Linked DNA regions of Homo sapiens. The protein of the gene in region 2 purifies or fractionates together with the protein of the main gene of each other region. This does not show direct contact. Each region holds a gene or a part of one and is shown on either strand. Other genes may lie near its edges. The genes, in order: GPR179, GPC5 and HSPG2.

Region 1 (3,042 bases), on a different chromosome or scaffold from region 2:
AGTCTGCCCTGGGGAAGGCACAGGCTCAGGAGGGCTCTTGCCCCAGTCAGGTGCCCTGGACCCAGAACTCAAAGTCAGCCCCAAGGAAGCAGGCAGCATGGGAAGCAGGATGGCAGAGCTGTGCCAATGGGAAATCACAGATCCAGAAGGAAATAAAATAAAGGGTACCATGGCAGACATCTGTCCTGGGGAGGAAACTGGAGTCCCATCTGAGGAATCTGGCCTCCTGGCTTTAACAGCAACTCGGAGAGAATTTTTCCCCACAGCTCCTGAAAAACCACTATGCCTTTTAGTCCATGGGCCTCTGGATCACTTCTTTCCAGAAAGCAAAATCCCCTGCCCCAAGGTAAGCAGGCCAGCCAGTACTTTCACTCTAGAAGGTGTCAGAGAACTACAAGGACCTTCAGGGCTTGAGCCAAGGACCAGCTTAGCCCCAGAGCCAAGTCTCCAGGAAGCTGAGTCTCAGTCTTCGTCCTTAACTGAAGACTCAGGCCAAGTGGCTTTTGAAGCTCAGTATGAAGAATTCACCCCTCCCACTGTCTATCCTTGGGATTGGGAGTAACAGCCTTATTAGGTGAGGTCAAACACAGAGCTAGCTTTCAGGAGCCAAGGCCCTTTCCAAGTCCAGGTGTTCCCAAAGAGCTGAATCAAAGACAGCTTGGCCACTTCCCCTCCTTGAGAAGACCAGAAGTCAACCCATCCCAAAGACAAACTGCATGAAAAGGGTACAGCTTAGACCCCAATGGGAAGGCCCACCCTCTCTTTACTTCTAACTTTTCTTCCTGTTTGAGGAAACAAAGACTGGACACTCTACTTCTAAGGACGCCTCCCATCCACCTACAGTACTCACAACACAAACCACCCGAGTCTGGACACTCACCCACAAAGCCACTGTTAGGGATGAAAAAAGTCAGTTGTGCCCAGCCTACCTTCTCTCACAGGGGGACCCAATTCTCTGAAGTCTACGATGGAGCATTTTTTGAGAAGAAACTAAACCATACAAAGTGTTGGCAACGTAGGGATGGTGGACCACAGAAGGCTATAAAGGCCACCATAGAAAGCTGAAGAGCCATTTAATTGAAGCGGAAGATAAATTGGGGGAAAAGCTAAAATGACTCAAAATAGGGGCCTGAAAATGCTTTAAGGACCTTGTCATTTTGACTTTGAATCTCCTGTTTCTGCTTTATTGCTTCTCATACCTGCCCTGCTTGACTGCTGAAGCAGAAACAATCAGGCACGCTGACACCCTTATCAGCATCTGGCATCCAAAGCAACATCAGAGAGAGAGAACACAGAAGAAAAGCAATTGCCCCAGGTCCTCCCCACAGTCAAGGGAGCTCTTCCTTCCAGACATCCTTGTGTGCCTCTTGCTAGTTTTTTAGGGGGTCTCCCCCTCTTCCTGCCCTAGCTCTCACCAGTCTCCAGAGCTCGTCTCACTGGCTCATTTCCTTCCCCCTAGCTTTTCAGCGCTGCCATCAACAGGACCTCTCTCTTTTGTCAAGGCAACTGGAGTCAAGGGGAATCTCTGGTTCTGATGCAAGACCCATCCACCCTCCCCCACCCCTCCCCGCCCAAGAATCACTTGCTCAGTAACAAGAGGCCACATCAATCTCCTTCCAGAGGAGCTCAAGAAAGGCAGTCCTGTACACAGCCAGCACTCTACTTCTTCTGCCCTCTAAAAGAGGAGTGCTACAGGGCAAGTTAGAAGCCTGAGAGCTGGGAAAAGGGCACTGTGTGAAGACAAAGCCTTCTTTCTTAGGGAGCTCTCTCTTTCTTGGCTCCCTTCTCTCGTCAGTTCAGGCTACACTTGCTTAAGCAGTACTAGATTACAAATTGCTGGGATTAGATGATAATACCAGAGGGAAAGGAAGAAGGAGAAAAACATACAAAGAAGTCCCAAGATTGGCAAAGGGAGGTGGGAGAGGGGGGAAGGGGCAGCTAGAGAAGGCAGAGCTGCACAGGGGCACTAAAGATGGCAGTAAGTCACGCCCTCTAACAGTACAACAGTACAGACATTGATGTCATTCATGGGGAGAAAAAGACAAACAGGGAGACCAAATACCCAAAGGGAAAAAGAGCCATTAACATCTAGTCTGCATGTAAATATGCTGGGCGGTTATGGGACTTCACAGAGAAAGTAAAAAAGTACTCCATTTCCAAAAGGGAACAGAGGAATGGAGTAACCTACTCTCCTTTGGGGACCAGATGTCCTCATTCTCTTACCTAGGGCCCTTATTCTGGGCTTTTGGAGCAGTAATTGAAGTGTGTTGTTGTTCTGGGCTCTGGCTAGTTAGCCTTACGGCTTCTGAGCTAAAGTGGATTTTGCTGTGCACCCCAAAACAATCCCATTGGGTCTGGTCTAGCTGGAAACAGCAAAGTTGCCGCCAAACACACTCTTGTGAAATAAACCATGGGGTGGGGGGGGCGGGGCGGAAATAAAGAATGCTTTTTCTTGACATTGCAGTTGGCTCTAGCTTATTCATGATTATCTTTTTTTAACATTTTTAAACAGTAACAGAAGATAGATAAGGAAAGAACAATGCCTGCTCCAAAGCTCAAGGTGCACTGCAGTCTTGGGACTTTGGGTTATCTGGCTAATGCTCTGCTAGTGCCCAGGTCAGTGCTGACACTGCAGATGGTCTCTGCCTGGTCCTTCTAGCCAGCCCCTCACATCTGGAGGCCATTTGCTCAGCTGGATTTAATCCCAAGGGGAAATGGAAATTGCACTCATCCTCTGGCTCTCTGGTGGCAGCTACTGCTTAGCTCCTATTTAGGATTATCTAGAGAACCCTGAGATATCCAGGGGAGTGGGATGAAACAGCTTATTTGAAGCACTATTTTTACATATTCAAAGGAATCAATGTATCATTTACCCACTAAGTGTGCTTTTTTTTTTTTTTTCATTTCTTTGCTTCCTTACCCTGCAAGGATTATTTCCCCTTCCTCCATACTCCCTGGCAGTGGGTCCTGCTCAAAAGCACGTCCCTTCTCATTTTGCCTTAATCCAGGGCTCAGGCAAATAGGATGTGACCAAACCTCACT
Region 2 (3,273 bases):
GAGGGTAAAACCTGATTGGGCAGCTTAAAAATGTTGTGATTTAAACTAACCATCCTTAGATCATTTTGTTAATTGAGAACTTAAGCGAGAACAAGGTTTGATCATATATTGTTTCCTGACTAGCAGAAACGGATTTTACCTTATTAATGTTTGCATTTGGCTGTGTCTTGTTTACGTCTTTGTCAGAAGTCATTTCAAATTTTTTTTTGTTTTTTTTTATTTGAGGTCAGCAATTCCCTTTTCTATTCTGTGACTTTGTATTAATTATATTTTCTCTCTGTAGACTGGATGTGATACTTATTAATAAAAACTAACTTCTCTTTTCCTCAAGTATAGCCATATACATATCCTATTAGTGTCTATTGAGGCAACTTATCCCAACTGAGAAATTAGGGACTGTTGGTTTGCAGCTCCATTAATGAGCAAATAGGAAAGAGCTAAAGTGTTGCATATCATCTTTTCTGTACATGTCTGCAGATATTCATAGGAACCTTAGAAATGCAAAGGTAGCCAATTGTACAACATCAGGCTTTAAAAAGTAGTACATAATATTTTGAAAATGGGTGAAAATAGCATTTTTGCCAGAAGAAAATGACAAATATTCTTCAAATTTTTCCACCAAATAGTTAACAGCTTTATTGGAGATATTCCTAGAGCAAGCATGTGCTTCCCAACATAGCTAAATCTATGAGGCAAAGAGAGAGATGGGAGCAGAGGCACAATACCAAAGATGCATTTTGAATATAATGGAATACAAATCAGGTGTTAATAAAATACTCAGCTTTAAGGTTCATCAGTGGCTAAGTTACAGTGGGTCAAAATTATCAAGGTTCTTCAGTGAAATTATATGAAATGCTTCTCAAGAATCTACCCCATAACTTATAGACATTCAGACATTTCCTTCTACAGCTTGCAAAAATGGAAGAGTCTCTTGAATATGCATGCATACTACTTGCCATTGTATGTTTTGATTTATTTCATGATATTCTAATTTCAATACTTTAAGAAATACTGCATACTGTTTTCATTGTCTGGCAAATACACTTTCAAATGAAAACATTTTTAATTTAGAAAGGAAGGGGCTTGGAATTGATAATAAAATTACAGATACACTAAATTCTTCTTATTCAAAGTCACTTCTGTGCCCTTCACATCTTCAGATTTAATATATTAGAAGTTAAGAAGGTTTTCAGTTAGATTGAAAAAAGACATATTTTTAAAGTGTGTCATTTAAACGTTGAGTTTTAGGGACTTTATGAATATTTCAGCTTGGCTTCTGAGAAGTTAGTGTAACATATCTTTTCATAAATATAATTGTTACATTGAAAAAGGATCTCTTATTCCAGGCATATGCAGAGAGAGAAGAAATCGAGACTTCAGTAAGGTATGTCAGGACAGAAGAGTTCAGTTACCAAATCCCGGGAAGTAACATCACCACACTTATCAGAGTGAATGTCATAGATTCAGTCGCCACTGCACATCCTGCTCCTGTTGTGTCTAAAGTACTGCCAGTGTCTGTTTGATGGATTTGCTTTACATCACTGAAGTTCATATCATCTGGCATCCCTGTAGAGGCAAATAAGAAAGCACAGGTGATGCATGACCACTTCACCATAATACGTCTAGAACAACTCTTAAACTCAAAGTGTGGACAGCATTGTTTTTGGGGACCATTCTCTATGTTCACCTAACTCTAACATAATTAATATGACACAGGTATTTCTGTCCTACTTAGATTGGAGAGTTCAAGCTCTTGTGTGAAAATTCTCAAATATTATAAGAGCAAAGTGAAAAGATTTTTAGCTTTTTAAAATTTTTGGAACATTTCTCTGCCACTGGTAAGTAAGTGAAGACATTTAATTAATTAATATATCCTAGGTATGGGATTAGTTCTTGTTTCAGAGATTTATCACCTTCAGTAACTGAAAACTTTTCCCATGAAAATAAAACCAGTTGAGGGGATATAATTGAATAAAATATTTTTTAAAAGTAGAATTTCTACAGATCATATTTTACATTAGAATAAAGTAGGCCTAAGATCTTTTTCAAATTTATTTTCATTTTTACTTGACAAATTTTATAGATATTGATGGGGTACAATGTGATATTTTGACAAGTATACCAGGAGGAATGATAAAGTCAAGCTGGCTAGCATATCCATCACCTCACATCCTTAGCATTTTTCTTGTGGAGGGAACATTTGAAATGTACCTTCTTGGCAATTTGGAAATATACAGTACATTATGAATGATAGTTACCATGCTGCGCAATGGTCTAAAACATTTCTTCCTCCTGTCTAACTAAACTTTGTACCCTCCAACCACCATCTCCCCTCCCTTCCCCACATCCATCCCCTGGCAGCCACCCTTTTACTTTCCCCTTTTATGACTTCAGCTATTTTAGATTCCACATGTAAGTGAGATCAGGAATTAGGACCTTTATGGAAATAGCAAATAGCAAAGAATAATAGCAACAAATGTTAAATTATATCTTCCATACACACATACAGCTGTGAGGATGGAGGTGTAGATATCTATCAACAGATCAAAGAAGTTGTTAATGGGTGGACTGGAGAATGAAGTTAGGGATAAAGTGTTTCATTTAAAAAAAAGCGGGCAAAGTCATACACCAAGATCCAGTCGCATTCTGGTTATTACTTCCGTACGTTATGAAACCTGACAAGTTGAGGAAAAAACTATCCCCTTAATTAACTGGGTTGAAAGAATTGCTTTTTAAAGATGTTTACCTTAGTACGATATACCTAGGGAATTACTGATTCATCACTTATTATCTAGTGCCATCAGTGTTCTGAGACTAAGTGACTGAATTATCTCATAGCATGCCACTATCAGTCACAATTAACAGATTTAAATTCATTGTTACTACAGCCACAAATATTGACATGGTAATTACAGAGAGATTGAAAGAATAAACTTCATATAAGGAAAAGTCAATATTTATGTAATTAGGCCAATATATATATATATAATTCAGAAGATAAGCTGTGCTGCATTCAGACATGAGAGCACTAAAACGAAGCAAAGCTCTGCTGATCTGACATATTGATTTTACAGTCTGAGCTCTTACATTATTATTCATTGTTTGGGTGCTTGTTTTGCCCTTCTGTGTCATTAGGCAAGATGAATAAACTAGTGATTCCCTTTTTTATTTTTTTTAAATAGGGACTAGAGTGGAGTGTGAATATTTTAGTCATGGCTTTATACCTCTTGTTAAGCTTAACAAGAAGCTATGAGGACTCCAGGCAATTAAAAA
Region 3 (3,656 bases), on a different chromosome or scaffold from region 2:
GGGGGCCTCCCACCCTGGGTCCCCAGCCCTGCCCTCCCTGAGAGCTACTCACCAGGCACTGAGCCCGCAGGCTCAATGGTGACCAGGACAGAGGCCTCTAGAGGCACGGAGCTGCCCAACACTCGGCACACGTACTCGCCCGAGTCGGCGGGGGACGCTTGGTAGAGTCTCAGCAGGGAGCCGTGGGTCTGGCCAGAATGGGGGTGAGTCAGAGGGAGCCCTCAGGAGACCCCTGTTCCTATAACCTGCAACCCTGCCTCACTCTGACCCCCAAGGCCTGGCCATCAGCTCTGGATCAGTTTCCCTGTCCTTCACATGGGGAAGGGGGACTCTTGTCCAGCAGCGGGGTGGTAGACCAGAGGAGCCCCAGTGAGCTGGGTACACACTCACACCACATCCCATCAATTCTAGACACACATTTCGATGTCTCCAAAATCAAGATGCATCTACAATGAATAACCTTACAAATAGAAGCTTTTTCTTAGAGGTACATAAAATCATAGCGGATCTCGCAATCAGTGGTATCCTAAATTCTACAAAATATGGTAACAACAATAGCTAATGGCATTATAGTAAAATATTAACAGCTTAGAGTACTTTCTGTGAGCCTAAGCTCTGAGGATTTTGCATATATTTTAATCTTTAAGATAATTCTGTGAGGTACTTTTTTTTTTTTTTTTGAGACTGAGTCTCGCTCTGTTGCCCAGGCTGGAGTGCAATGGCGTGATCTTGGCTCACTGCAGCCTCCGCCTCCTGGGTTCAAGCGATTCTCCTGCCTCAGCTTCCCGAGTAGCTGGGATTACAGGCGCCTGCCACTATGCCCGGCTAATTTTTATATTTTTAATAGAGATGGGGTTTCACCATACTGGCCAGGCTGGTCTCGAACTCCCGACCTCAGGCGATTCGCCCACCTCGGCCTCCCAAAGTGCTGGGATTACAGGCGTAAGCCACCGTGCCCGGCTGGTACGTACCATTGTTACCATTTTATAGGCCCTGAAACTATAGCACAGAGAGGTTAAGTAACTTGTCCGAGGTCACAAGCTAAGTGGTGGAGCCAGAATTCACACCCAGGTTAGTCAGTCCTAGATTCTGGTTTCTAACCACTGCACTATACATCTGTGCAATGGGGTCCAGGGCTTCCTGATCTCAGGGGAGCCTCTAGCCCTCCCCCAATAACCTCCGCCACCCAGGGACCCGCTTCCTCTTCTTGGCCTGTCTGTCCTCCAGTCCCATACCTGGTGCCGGACAGGGAGGCTGCCCCCACGCTTGTGCCACGTGACCTGGGCATGGGACTGCCCGGGCACCACGCAGTTCAGATCCAGGGTCTGCCCTTCCGCCACTTGCGAGGAGGAGGGCTCGATGCGGATGGGCTGGGTGCTGCCGGCAGCTGAGGGATAAGATGGTCACCGGTCACTCCTGTTCTCTGAAGCCACTCCAGCCTGTTCTCTGCATCCCAGCCCAGCCTGGTGGCCCCACTCACGGTAGGCTAAGTTGGCCCCCTGGGTCCCAGTTACTGTGACCGTGATGGAGGCCTCCATGCCGTTGCTGGCCCGGCAGACGTACTGTCCCGCATCGGCAGGTGAGGCCTGGAAGATGTACAGGCGGGAGCCACGAACCTGGGCAGCCGTGGGCAGAGGTGTGAGGGGGGCTTCCCGGAGGCCAGCAAATGCCCCACCGCTGTCCCCCCGATCTAGGAAGTGCCAGCCCCTCAGCCTAGGGGCCAGGATCCTGCAACCCACTGTCCATGGCCCCGTCCCACATTCTTGGTGCCCTGTACCTGGTGCCGGGCAGGGAGGCTGCCCCCACGCTTGTACCATGTGACCTGGGCGTGGGCCTGCCCTGCCACCACGCAGCTCAGATCCAGGGTCTGGCCCTCGGCCACTGTGGAGGATGAAGACTCGATCCTGACAGGTGGGATGGGTCCTGCAGCAGTGGGGATGGGAGTGAGAGTTGTAGATGCTCCTGAGATGAGAGGGCAGGGGTTGCCCACCCTGCAGCTAGCTCAGCCCAGGGTTTCAAGGCCAGATCCAGCTTTTCAGGCATCTGGGGGCCTGGACTTGATGCCCTCAGCTCAGCAACCCTGATGGGAGGACCAGGGCATGGGCCACGCCTTGCAGAGGGGAGTGAGGAAGTGAGAGAGATGAGGGCAGAGATGAGTTGGAGAGAGGAAGAGGAGGTGGGAGGGGACGCCTGAGGAGTCATGTGGCCAAAGCAAAGTGTGACGGGAAGGCGGTGGTTACTCTGACAGGTGGAGTCGGCCTGGGCAGGGCCCTGCAGCCAGCTCCGGTGTGGGCCTTCTGCCCTGTCAGCAAGAGGGGTCCCTTGGATCTCACCACCCCGGAGGCCTCTCTGCCTCCTCCAGCTTTCCATGTCACTGGGAGTCACTCACCAGGGATGACAGAGGCTTCGATGGTGACCAGGACTGAGGCCTCTAGGGGGCCGGAGGTGCCCACCACATGGCACACATACTCGCCTGAGTCGGCCGGGGTCACCTGGTGCAGCCGCAGCAGCGAGCCGTGGGTCTGTGTGCAAATGGGGTGGGTTGGGAGGGGGCTGGAACAGTCCCATCCAGCCCCTCCAGCAAGGTGGTCCCGGGGGGCTGCCATACCTGGTGCCGGGCAGGGAGGCTGCCCCCACGCTTGTGCCACGTGACCTGGGCGTGGGCCTGCCCGGGCACCACGCAGTTCAGATCCAGGGTCTGCCCTTCCGCCACGTGTGAGGAGGAGGGCTCGATGCGGATGGGCCGGGTGCTGCCGGGCACTGGACACAGAGCGGCTGCTCAGAGGCCTGAACTCTTGGGCTGTAACCTGTAGCCCTGGGGCAGAAGGCTCTGGGCTGTGACCAGGCCCTAGTGGGGACGGCCGACAGGTGGCCTTTCTGGGACTAGGGCCACACCCTTCTGCCTCCACATGGCCAGCCGAATATGGCTTCTTCCCTCCCCAGCCTCTAACCACAAGCTGGAGGCCCATTGACCCACCCATGACTTCTTGATGATGAGCTCCTCTGGCCCATAGGGAACCAGCAAGCTTTACTACCCAGGCTGCGCCCAAGGATGCGGATGACAGTGAGACACCTCCCTTCTACAGGACGTCTTCCGTGTGCTCACAAGTACTTTCCATAGACACTGTCTCATTTAAACCACACCATGACTGGCCAGGCGCGGTGGCTCATGCCTATAATCCCAGCACTTTGGGAGGCTGAGACGGTCGGATCACGAGGTCAGGAGATCGAGACCATCCTGGCTAACACGGTGAAACCCCGTCTCTACTAAAAAAAATACAAAAAATTAGCCGGCCTGGTGGCGGGTGTGCCTGTAGTCCTAGCTACTCAGAAGGCTGAGGCAGGAGAATGGTGTGAACCCGGAAGGCGGAGCTTGCAGTGAGCCGAGATCACGCGCCACTGCACTCCAGCCTGGGTGACAGAGCGAGACTCTCTCTCAAAAAAATAAAATAAAATAAAATAAAATAAAATAAAATAAAATAAAATAATAAAAAAACCACACCATGACCAAGCAGGTGGGCAGTACTGCTCCATTTCATAGATGAATCTGAGGCCCCAAAAGTTAAAAGCTAGTTCAAGGTTGCTAAGGGGCAGATCTGGGATTTGAACCAGGTCAGCCGACTCCCAGCTTAGTATTCAACCTGGACATTCTGCTG

What was found.
Region 1: the proteins of GPC5 (region 2) and GPR179 purify together in Homo sapiens (co-immunoprecipitation; one study listed by IntAct). This does not show direct contact.
Region 3: the proteins of GPC5 (region 2) and HSPG2 purify together in Homo sapiens (affinity purification with mass spectrometry; one large-scale study listed by BioGRID and IntAct). This does not show direct contact.

The regions. Positions count from the first base shown.
Region 1 is NC_000017.11:38,323,985-38,327,026, reverse strand, and holds the end of GPR179 (probable G-protein coupled receptor 179 precursor), read left to right. Parts: coding exon 1-562; 3' UTR 563-2,456; downstream 2,457-3,042. UniProt on the Homo sapiens protein: Orphan receptor involved in vision. Required for signal transduction through retinal depolarizing bipolar cells.
Region 2 is NC_000013.11:92,864,575-92,867,847, reverse strand, and holds the end of GPC5 (glypican-5 precursor), read right to left. Parts: intron 1,567-3,273; coding exon 1,409-1,566; 3' UTR 611-1,408; downstream 1-610. UniProt on the Homo sapiens protein: Cell surface proteoglycan that bears heparan sulfate.
Region 3 is NC_000001.11:21,850,311-21,853,966, forward strand, and holds part of HSPG2 (basement membrane-specific heparan sulfate proteoglycan core protein isoform b precursor), read right to left. Parts: intron 2,761-3,656; coding exon 2,609-2,760; intron 2,523-2,608; coding exon 2,390-2,522; intron 1,924-2,389; coding exon 1,778-1,923; intron 1,617-1,777; coding exon 1,481-1,616; intron 1,388-1,480; coding exon 1,236-1,387; intron 189-1,235; coding exon 53-188; intron 1-52. UniProt on the Homo sapiens protein: Integral component of basement membranes. Component of the glomerular basement membrane (GBM), responsible for the fixed negative electrostatic membrane charge, and which provides a barrier which is both size- and charge-selective.